Regions from separate parts of the Homo sapiens genome. Here region 1 is linked to region 2. Evidence: fine-mapped expression QTL. A gene starts in region 2. The other region holds a variant in brackets. All regions are shown on one strand. Distances are from middle to middle.

The links. PIP is the estimated chance that this variant, and not a neighbour inherited with it, causes the effect. A credible set is the group of variants that fine-mapping cannot tell apart.
Region 1: its variant is the best candidate, but not a certain one, in a credible set for the expression of PUF60 in breast (GTEx, PIP 0.85).

Annotation. Positions count from the first base shown.
Region 1 is chr8:143,790,199-143,795,548 of GRCh38, reverse strand. It overlaps IQANK1 (IQ motif and ankyrin repeat containing 1), which reads right to left. Exons shown (of 14, transcript NM_001381874.1): 13 at 5,278-5,350; 14 at 4,904-5,199. The coding sequence ends at 4,941. SCRIB (scribble planar cell polarity protein) reads left to right here. Exons shown (of 37, transcript NM_182706.5): 25 at 19-129; 26 at 216-272; 27 at 437-511; 28 at 1,587-1,649; 29 at 2,466-2,573; 30 at 2,682-2,841; 31 at 2,914-3,064; 32 at 3,144-3,329; 33 at 3,416-3,558; 34 at 3,636-3,673; 35 at 3,809-3,883; 36 at 4,109-4,160; 37 at 4,241-4,624. The coding sequence ends at 4,386. Among named protein-coding and RNA genes, the nearest start is that of MIR937, 20 kb to the left of the region's middle. The variant C/G (reference allele first, on the strand shown) is at 1,976.
Region 2 is chr8:143,826,232-143,831,544 of GRCh38, reverse strand. It overlaps PUF60 (poly(U) binding splicing factor 60), which reads left to right and starts at 2,230. Exons shown (of 12, transcript NM_078480.3): 1 at 2,230-2,265. The coding sequence starts at 2,242. It overlaps LOC107986985 (a long non-coding RNA gene), which reads right to left and starts at 2,265. Exons shown (of 3, transcript XR_001746138.2): 1 at 2,141-2,265; 2 at 1,507-1,699; 3 at 1-836. It also overlaps a transcript of NRBP2 not described here. RefSeq lists enhancers at 939-2,138, 1,459-2,158 and a silencer at 1,943-2,512.

The DNA.
Region 1 (5,350 bases), 36 kb after region 2:
CCACACCCCTCTTCTCAGGTGTCCCCAGGTGTCATTGCCAACCCCTTTGCGGCAGGCATCGGCCACCGGAACAGCCTGGAGAGCATCTCTTCCATCGACCGGGAGCTGAGCCCTGAGGGCCCAGGCAAGGTCAGAGGTGCCTGCAGCCGGCAGCCCCAGGGCCAGGGAGCCCGAGGCCGGTGGTGCCTGACGGGTCTGCTCTGCTCTGCTCACAGGAGAAGGAGCTGCCTGGACAGACCCTGCACTGGGGGCCCGAGGCCACAGAAGCCGCAGTGAGTGTGGTCGCCCCACCCCCTCACATCAGGGCACTGGAGCGGGGTGCACATTGCCTGTGGGGTGCTGGGTAGTAACCCCCAGGACCCCCTCTCCTGCCCTGTGCTGGCCGGGTGCTGCCACGGAGCTACCCCTGCTAGTGCTGTGTTCACTCTGCCCCCAGGGTCGGGGTCTGCAGCCCCTGAAGCTGGACTACCGCGCCCTGGCCGCCGTGCCCAGCGCTGGCAGCGTGCAGAGGGTGAGTGCCCAGTGTGCAGTGCCCCCCACCTCCGTCCTGTTGTCCTGTTCATCGGCCACCCCAGGACAAACGCCAGGGCCATCCGGGAGGGAACCTTTGGGCGGGGGCTGGGGTGGGAGGAGGCCACGTCTGACCTGCAGGCTACCCCAGCCTGGCACATGCTTATCACCCTCATTCTCAACCCAAGCCATGTTGGTGCTGCCCCACCCACACACCCTGAGCTGCGGATGGGTGACACAGGCCGAGGCATCCCTCTAGTGGCGGTGCGAGAGCTTCACCTGCTGCTGCTGGGGCTGCCCAGCCCCAGAGGGTGCGAGTGGGGGCAGAGGCTCCTGGGGGATTGGGCAGGCACATGTCCCCAAGGGGAGGACAGGCTGGAGCAGCTGGAGGGGCGGGTGCTGGGGACAGGCAGGAGGATGTGCAGGCCCATCCCTCCCCTTAGAGATACAAATAACCCTCCCAGAGGGTGCGCCCCACCAGCCCCACCGAACGTGAGTGCCGAGGGGTGGCTCCTGCAGGCCCTTGCCCAAGCGGTGGGGTGGTGGTGAGGGGCCAGGCAGGGCCTGGATCTGAGGCAGCGCATTCGGGGGCTCTTGGGTACTGACCCTGCCTCCTCTGGCCATGGGCAGCGCCAAGAGGGAGGCTTCCGGGAGGCCCTTCATCCTCATGAACAACAGCACAGTCATGGGGGCAGCAGTCAGGGCGCCACTGAGCCCTGAGGGCTGCACACCACAAGTAGGGGCTCCCCACCATCACCTCTGTCTCTGGCCCCTCCCCCGAGCCCTCCCTGCTCTCTTCTCCGGCTGTCCTGTCTGCTCCCATCTCTCCTGCAAAGCTCCAGCCAGCACACTGCCATGGAGACAGCAGCTGCCCAGCCCAGGCCCCCGCATCCTGTGGGAACGGGGACGAGCCCCTCCGTGCTGACCGAGTGTCTGGGGCATCCCCTGGGCTATAGTCAGGTTGGGGAACTGAAGAGCTGCTGTGGCTTTTAGGCAAGCCCCAGGGCCCCCAGTCCCTCCTGGTCGGGGGCCACAGCCCTGCCCATCCTCACCCCACCCACTGCCTACTCCTCCAGGTACCGTCTGGAGCAGCTGGAGGGAAGATGGCTGAATCTCCCTGCTCCCCTAGTGGCCAGCAGGTGAGTGTCCCAAGTTAACGGGTGTGCCCCATGGTGGGTGGAGGGCAGGGCAGATGGCCGCTGTGCACAGGGCCCCTCCTCCAGGGATGGGGGGTCAGGGGCCATCGTGGGGTGCTGTTGACTCCGGTTTTCCCTCTGCTACCATGGGGCCTCCTGTGTGAGGAAGGCCAGGGACGCTTTCCTGGCCAGAGCTGCCTGGCGATGGGGTGGGGGGCCTGAGTGTGCTGTTCCTGGAGGGGCTCAAGCTCCTGAGACCCCAGTCAGTGTCTCAGGCCCAACACCTCCCAGGGCCCACCTTATCCCTGCCTGCCTTTTGTCTGGGGGTC[C/G]TTGCCCCCCCACTGTTGGCACCTCCCAACACACTGCCACGTGGGGGTGGAGGTGGCAGCCCCCATGAGACCCAGCCCCAGCTCAGCCCCTCACAGGCAAGATGTCAGCCCCACCCAGGTTGGTCGGTCTCTCTCTCTCTGTCTCTCCCACCCCCCTCTCTACCCCCGTCCCTTGCCTTAAACCCCTGATCCTGCTCTCCTCTGCCCCCGCCGCCCCCACCTGCCTTTTTTAGACAAAACCAGGGGTGATCCAGCCATTGGCTCAGGCCTGGCCAAGGGGCTCCCCAGCCCCCAGGGGCAGAGGTTGTCCCCACTCCGTGAGTGCTCTGTCCCGTGGGTGGGGGTGGCAGAGCCTCCTTCCCCAGCAGGATGGTGGGTGGGGATCAAAGGCAGGCGGGGGGACAGGCGGGGGGACAGCCGGTGGTGAGTTGCACACAGCTGCAGCCCCGACAGCTGCCCCAGCATAGCTCACAAGAGCCCCACCCCCCAGCCGCCCTCCCCGCCTTCTCCGGATGAGCTGCCCGCCAATGTGAAGCAGGCCTACAGGGCCTTCGCGGCCGTGCCCACTTCTCACCCGCCTGAGGATGCCCCTGCCCAGGTGTGTGGGGGCAGCACGCCTCCCTGCTGCGCGTGGTTGGGGTGGGTGCCCGGGGGCCCCAGTATCTCGGAGGAATGCCAGCCAAACCTCAAGGTCCGCTCCCCCCAGCCCCCCACGCCTGGGCCTGCAGCCTCCCCGGAGCAGCTGTCCTTCCGGGAGCGGCAGAAGTACTTTGAGCTGGAGGTGCGCGTGCCCCAGGCCGAGGGCCCCCCTAAGCGCGTGTCCCTGGTGGGTGCTGACGACCTGCGGAAGATGCAGGAGGAGGAAGGTGAGGGGCACGGAAGTGGGGTGGGGGTTGGGTCTCGGCTGGTCTGGCCTGACCCACCCTGCCCTCCGGCAGCCAGAAAACTACAGCAGAAGAGAGCGCAGATGCTGCGGGAGGCGGCAGAGGCTGGGGCCGAAGCGAGGCTCGCCCTGGACGGGGAGACGCTGGGCGAGGAGGAACAGGAGGATGAGCAGCCACCCTGGGCCAGCCCGAGCCCCACCTCAAGGTGAGCACCCGCCCACCAGACGCCCCCTACTCACCCCACGTGCCCCTGCCCCCCACAGCACGTCCTGTCCCTTCCCCAGGCAGAGCCCGGCGTCCCCCCCACCCCTGGGAGGTGGCGCCCCGGTGCGGACGGCCAAAGCTGAACGGCGCCACCAGGAGCGGCTGCGCGTGCAGAGTCCGGAGCCACCGGCACCCGAGCGTGCCCTGTCCCCTGCCGAGCTCCGGGCCCTGGAGGCCGAGAAGCGTGCGCTGTGGAGGGCAGCCAGGTGAGCCCCTGTGTGGGGTCGCCACCCCGCCCTGCTGCCTGTCCCTGCTCCTGCCCCAAGTCACCCCTGCCCGCTGTTCTCTGCAGGATGAAGTCATTGGAACAGGACGCTCTCCGAGCACAGATGGTCCTCAGCAGGTCCCAGGAAGGCCGGGGCACGCGGGGGCCCCTGGAGCGACTGGCCGAGGCCCCTTCCCCTGCGCCCACCCCGTCGCCCACCCCTGTGGAAGGTCTGTGGGTCAGGGCAGGTCGGGGGGGTCAGCCTGCCGCATGGGCTGCTTCCAATGCCCGCTTCTTGTCCCCCCAGACCTCGGCCCCCAGACCAGCACCTCCCCGGGACGCCTGGTGAGGAGCCGGTGGCTATGCCTTCCCTTCACCCCCGAGGCATGGGGGTGGGGTCTGGCCTGCCCCCACCCCCGTGGCCCTCATCCCCCCCTTTCCTCTCACTCTCTGCCTCTCCCCTCACGCTGTCCTTTCAAGCCCTTGTCTGGAAAGAAGTTTGACTACAGGGCCTTTGCGGCCCTGCCTTCTTCCAGACCTGTCTATGACATCCAGGTACCTGGCCTCCAGGCCTCTGCATGCCTGCCACCCTGTCCGTGCCTGCCACCGCCCCCATCCGCTCCCGCAGGGCCTCCCCACGCTCTGCCGTGGCCCTGCCTCTTCACCCCCCCTCCCCCTTCAGCCGGGCTCTGTGGGCCTCAGGGCTGGGAGCCCACCCGTCCACCTGGGTGGTTTGGGGCAGGGCTGGCACCGGCCTGACCAACACTCTCCCCATCACAGTCACCGGACTTTGCTGAGGAGTTGAGGTCCCTGGAACCATCTCCCAGCCCTGGTGAGTTGGGGCCGGGCTGGGGTGAGCTCCCAGGAGCCCAGCTGCCCTCAGCTCACTGCCCACCTGTCCCTGCCCTCCAGGCCCGCAGGAGGAGGATGGAGAAGTGGCTCTGGTGCTTCTGGGCAGGCCCTCACCCGGCGCTGTGGGCCCTGAAGATGTGGCACTGTGCAGCAGCCGCCGCCCCGTAAGGCCTGGGCGCCGTGGCCTGGGCCCTGTGCCCTCCTAGAGGAGCAGGCACCTCCCCCAGACTTGGGGTGGGGGCCCTGCCAGCTCCAGCACCACCCTTGCCCCAAGTCTTTTAACCTGGGTGTTAGCATTTTAAAGAGACCCCACAGGAGTTCTGGCCTGTGACTAACTAACTGCCCCACCCCAGCCGAGACCTCGGCGAGACTGTAACTAGTGATGTTTGTACAACCAAAGACTCTATTTTGTGGTTTAAGGAGAATAAAGTTGACTACATTTTACCTCCCGTCTGCCTGTCCATCCCCCACCCACTAGCACAGACCCTTCCTGCCCTCCGAGGCGAGGCTGAGCTCCGAGGGCTGCACCCTCACCGTCCCTCCCACGTCTCCCGCTGCGCCTCACTGCGCACGGGTCGGCCGGGCAGGCTGCCCATCCCCAGCAGGGCCTCCCCCAAGTGCCTGCAGACCCATGTCCGCCGGCCGGGGCCCGGGACTGCCGGAGTCCTGGACTGGCACACGCCACCGCTGCCCCCACGCACGCAGCACAGATGCAGCACCGCGCCCCGGGGCACACGTTTTATTGGGACTGGGGCCAGCACTAGAGGCCTGTGCCTGGCAGCTGCACGCGCACTGGGAGCAGCACCTGCAGCTGCTCAGCTGGCGGCCACTGGACCTTGGTGACGAAAAAGAGGCGGAAGTGCTCCAGCCGCTGCTCCTGGAACTGCGTGGGGCTATACTCAGGCCCGTCCGTGGGCCGCAGCAGCGACAGGTACCTCTCCTGCACCGCCTCCAGCTGCCGCTGCACGACTGGGAACAGGTCTTCCTCTCGCAGGTCGAACACCAGCGGCTTCCCATACCTGCCCCATGAGGCTGGTGAGGCCAGGGTGGGGCTAGGGAGGTGGGGTGGGGTGTACCTGTCACCCTGCCTGCCTCACCGCAGAGCCCCCAGCAGAGCCAGCCACATCGTCTCCGGCCTCAGGGGCTCCGGGTTCACCGTGTCCACATAGT
Region 2 (5,313 bases):
GGCTCCAGCAATCCTCCCACCTTAGCCTCTCTAGTAGCTAGGACTACAGGCGTGTGCCACCATGCCCAGCTGGTTTTTTAAAATTACTTTTTGTAGAGACGTGGCCTCACTATATTGCCCAAGCTGGTCTTGAACCCCTGGGCCCAAGTGATACTCCTGCCTCAGCCTCCTGAAGTGCTGGGAAGGCAGGCATGAGCCACTGTGCCTGACCTGGACTTCTCTTTTGAGATGCAGTCATGGTGGTGGCAAGAACACAGGCTCTGGAGCCATTCTACTGCTGCTCCCTGCCTTGTGATGTTGCCCATCAGTAAAAATGGGGTAACAGCTGTATCCATTGCATAGCACTGGGTTGTGAGGATCCCATGAATGAATGTGTGTAAGAACAGTCCTGGGCACCATGCATCCTGCGTGCACATTATTGCCAAGGGAAGCTGTCCCCAGAGGGTGGTGCCTGTGGCTTCCCCTGGTGGTGGTGGCAGACCAGCCCCCCACCTCCCATCCACCCCCTCCATTGTGGAGGCCTTGTGTGCCAGGCTAGCCCTAAGAGCACCCACCTGTGTTACTGCTATTCTGTTTTCCAGCTATCTGGTTCTGTCATTATACATTCTGGAAGACTTCATCTTAAAAGCCTATTGAATTGCTCACTTTCCCCTCATGTTTTATTTCTAAGAGCTCTTTCTCATCCCGAGGTTTCTTTCTCTATAGCCCCCAGTTCCTTTTTATTGACTGAGAATGGCATTTTAGTTTTCATTTTTCTTCGGCTTCCTTTATCGTCTCTGTTTCTTCTGAGTCCCTTTTCTTCTTTCTCAGGTGTCTGGTGATCCTGGGCTGTCCAGCTGCATTGAAGAGTGAGATGCTTTTAGTGGCTGGGGCTTATGACCTGGTGAGCTTCGAGGCCAGGGATCTGGCTGGGCCATTCTACTGGGCAACACTCTACCCCTAGGTGCCCTGCCAGTCTTTTCTTTTGAGCTAGGAGCTGCTGCAGAGAGGAGCCCTCTTCTCTGAGAAGCCTGATGGCATGCGGGTGGTCAGACCCAGCCCAGGGGTGGAGGCAGGGGTAGGACCCAGAGTCTCACTTACTCCCAGGCTTTCAGACAGGGCCTTGCTTGAGCAGGGCCTCAGAGCTCCTCTCCTGGAGCTCACGTCTCAGACACTGCAGTGCCTGCCAGCCCCGGTGGGTAGGGACAGAGGTCTGGGGTTTCCTTTCTGTAGCTGTGCTTTCACCCACGACCCTCAGACACTGGCCTCCATAGCCAAGTGGGCTGGAGTAGCTCTCGCTGTCCACCTTTCTTAAGCTCTGCAATATCCCAGCTCTTTGCCCTTGCAGGGTTTGTCTTTATAAAACCCCTTTCCTATAATTTTGGAAGGTTTCAGGAGGGAGGCGGGGAATATTCTGCCCTATTTAAGTAGAAGTGTCTGTATTAAATTCTAAATGTTCCCAGGGTTGAAAGGAGGCCTGCCCGGGATGCCTTGTGGCCTTAGGCAGCTGAAGGTGCCTGAGCTTACAGATGTGGCTTCTTCGGATGACCGAGTTGGGGTCTCGGGACTGGGTGCAGCAGATGGCAAATGTCCAGGACAGGCAGCTTTCCCAGCAGTACTGACAGACACCTTGGGCCATGAAAGCCAGTTCAGGGACTAACGGGGCCTGCGGGCTGCGGGTCTAGCGACTGATGTCAGCCAACCTAGGGTCATCGGTTCCCTGGAAGGAGAAAAAGCTGCCAATTGAACGGGGCCTCCCGGTCCCAGGGATGTCGCGACGCGGGGACGACGCATCTCACGACGTCAGCCTGAAACACGCGGGCCTTTCATCACCCGAGACTCCTCCAGCCCAGGAGGGCCCCGCTCTTTCGCCTGCCTCCTGGGGGAGAGCCTCTGGACGACGCACGCGACAGCGTTTTCTCCAAAAAAGGCAGAGAAGAGAAGCGTAGCAGTGGCCGCAAGGGCGACGGGCGGCGAAGGGTACTACGCACGCCCGCGTCGGCCACGCGGAGAGATACGCCCGACTCGAGTCCCGCGGCGCACGCCCCTAGACGCCCGAGGTGCGCGGGCCACGCCCCTCGCCCGGCCAAGAGCACGCCCCTTCCGTCGCCCCTCCCGGGGGCGTTTACCGTTCCTCCCCGCCCCGGAAGCGCGTTCTTACCTCCTTCCTCGCGAGAGTTCCGTGCACCGGCACCCAGATCGCGCGAGACAGCGGAAGGAGCAAGAGTGGGAGGCGCGCGCGGAGGCCGCGACGGACGCAAGATGGCGACGGCGACCATAGCTCTCGTAAGTGAGCCCCCCCATGAGCGCGGGCGGCCCTCGGCTTGCGGGGCCGGGTCGTCGACCCAGCCTGGGCGCGGAGGGCCTCCCAAGAACGCGGCGGTCTTCCCAGGTCCCGCGCGGACTCCCTCGTGTCCCCGGGTCGCGTGAGGCGGGGGCGGGGCGGGCGCGCGCCGGCGGCCGGCTCGCGGCCTCAGCTTCCGGCCTGCGGACCCCAGCTTCCGGCGGGGCGGGGCGGGGGCCTGGGCGCGGCGTGTGGCCCTTGCGGGCGAGCCTGGCGGGGTTGCGTTCCTGTCCGCTAGGTCCGGCAAGCGGGGGTCGTCGTCCTCCCTTTGCCGACGGGGGTGTGCGCCGTGGTCACGACGGAAGCGGGGTTCTGGGGGTGACGCGTGGGCCTTCGGGTTGATGGGATCAGAAGGGGACGGGACCTGTAGAAAGGGGCCTGCAGCTCAGAGCATGGGGCGGCCTTGGCTCACTACGCCTGCAGCTGTGAATTCGTTCTCCGGTGCTGGAGAGGGATCTGGTTATCTCCATTCTCTTGTCTCCACGTGGAAAGGAAGGACGTGCGCTCTCATCCTACGTGTTTTGAGAAATCGCATTGTCCCCAGCTCTGCGGGAGGATCTGGGGACGCAGTGGGGAACCAGACAGGCAGTTGGAGGTCTAGTGCGCACCAGAAGCCAGTTCCCACCCAGGGTGCCATTTGCTGGGCGCCCTAGGGAGCTGCGTGGGCATCCAGAGGAGTGAGTCGCCCCCTGCTCTGCTCAGTGCCCACTTCCCCGGGCAGGGCAGGCGTTATTAACGTAGAGGGAGAACACCCATGCACACAACACATGCACGATGAAGTCTGGTCTTTCCTTCTCACCACTTAGCTTATAGGACCTAATCCCCTTTTGGACCTTTCTCAGCCGCAGTTTACCCCTGTATTACTTGTCACCCTTCCCCCAGCCCACACCCAGCGGGATGGGATAAGGTCTGTTTGAGAAGACAGCTTGGGCAAATGGCTGAAGGCTGGACTGGCAGGACCAGGGAGTGTCCTTAGACTGCCATTGCCAGGCCCCCAGCGGGCGGGCTGGTCCCATGTCCCACTGAGGCAGAAACCAGTTACTAGGGGGAGAGAGGCATTTACACAAGATACCCAGCTTGCGAGGGCAGCCCAGTGTGTGATTCACAGGACTGGCTAACTCCACTCTTTCTACTATGTCCTTTCTCTTGAAGCCACAGGAGTAAGTGACCTTTGAGGGGCACTCCAGAGAGAAAGGATGTAAGGGTTGAGGACCTGGTGACTGTCTTCAGGCAGCAGTCAGAGAGTTGATGGTGAAGGAGGAGGAGGCTCAGAGACAAGGACTGGACATGGGAAGGTGGAGGAGGAGAGTGGATGCCTGACTCCCCTAGCACCCGCAGAACAGCGCCCTGTGCTCATGAGGGTTAAATGGGGGCTCAGGTCTGCTGTGGCGTGGTGCCAGATAGGTGGTGTCATTGTTGAGTTGGACGTGGGCCATAACTGACCCCACGAACGGGTTGTCTGTTGGGGTGTTTGTTGCCATCCAAATTCTGTTGGGTTTAATACGTGTTTTTTTATCGTCAGGTTTCAGGCTTGCATCCGGCTCCAGGAGTGAGCTGTAGCCTGTGGTCTAACCCATTCCTCTTTTAATCATTGGGATGGAAAGGCTTCTAGAAGGGTTATCTGTTCCCACCGTCCTGGTTGGGCACAGTGATGAGAGCCTGTCCCCTGTCTCATGCTGCTTCAGCTCTCATGGGAGGTTGAATGGAGCAGCTGAACTTGGCTGACAGTGGCCTGGTGGGGAAGGAAGCCAGAAGATGCAGAAGGGCCTCCCCTCCCATGGGCATGCCTTCTGCCTGGTGGCTGCAGAATGAGGCCGGCTGCCTCTTTGCAGCAAGGGTAGGTCTTCTGGATGCATCTTTTCACTTTGACGCATGGCTCCGTTCTCTTCACTGACAGCCAGACCAGCTCTCATTTGGGGTCATCACCCTTGGGGTTCCAGTTCCTTTCTTCTGTAGGCCCCAGCCTGCAATGTCACCTCATAGAGAGGCCCCCGGCTGCCATGGCCTGGCATAGCTCATAGCCACTCCTTTCTTATCCTGTGCTTTCTTCGTAGTGCTGGTAAACCACAGAAGTCATCTTTGATTTTGGCATTCTTTGCTGGCAGCTGACACCAGGCTCCTGAGAGAGACGTCTTTCTCTCTTGTCTCGTGTCTGCGGCCTCTGCAGCGCTCACTGTGGAGCCTGGGCACGCAGTAAGCAGTGTTCATTGTGTGAAGGGAACTGACAGATAGAAGGCAGTGTCCTGCAGCCAGCTCTGCCCTGGGTATCTGACACTGGATGTTGTTAATACTGATGAGTGCTGGAACCTGTGGCTTGCTTTGCTGCTTTCCATGTGCAGGGACTGCAGGTTGTGGGGTTGGGGGCGTGTTGGGATTTCACTGAATCTTCACAGTAGCCCTAGGAGACAGGCCGTCCCCATTCCCAGCTGAGGAGCCTGAAGCCTTGAGACCTTGGGACCTTCAGTCATTCGCTCCACATTATTTTTTTTTTCTTTTTGTGTGTGAGACGGAGTTTTGCTTTATCGCCCAGGCTAGAGTGCAGTGGGGTGATCCCGGCTCACTGCAACCTCTGCCTCCTGGGTTCAGGCAATTCATGGTAGCACCTCAGCCTCCCAAGTAGCTGGGATTACAGGTGCTTGCCACCATGCCCGGCTAATTTTTGTATTTTTAGTAGAGATGGGGTTTCACCATGTTGGCCAGGCTGGTCTCCAACTCCTGACCTCAAGCAATCCACCTGCCTCGGCCTCCCAAAGTGCTGGGATTACAGGCGTGAGCCACTGCGTCTGGCCACATTACTTTTTAAAAAAATCTTTTTTTTCATAGAGACAGCGTCTTGCTGTGTTGTCCAGGCTGGTCTTAAGTGCTACATCGGTCTCCCAAAGTGCTGGAGTTACAGGTGTGAGCCACCACGCCCAGCCCCTACATTGCTTTTCTTGTTTTCTGATGGAAATACTCTTCTTTGCTCTGGGCTGAGGAAAGGCAGTCCCAGA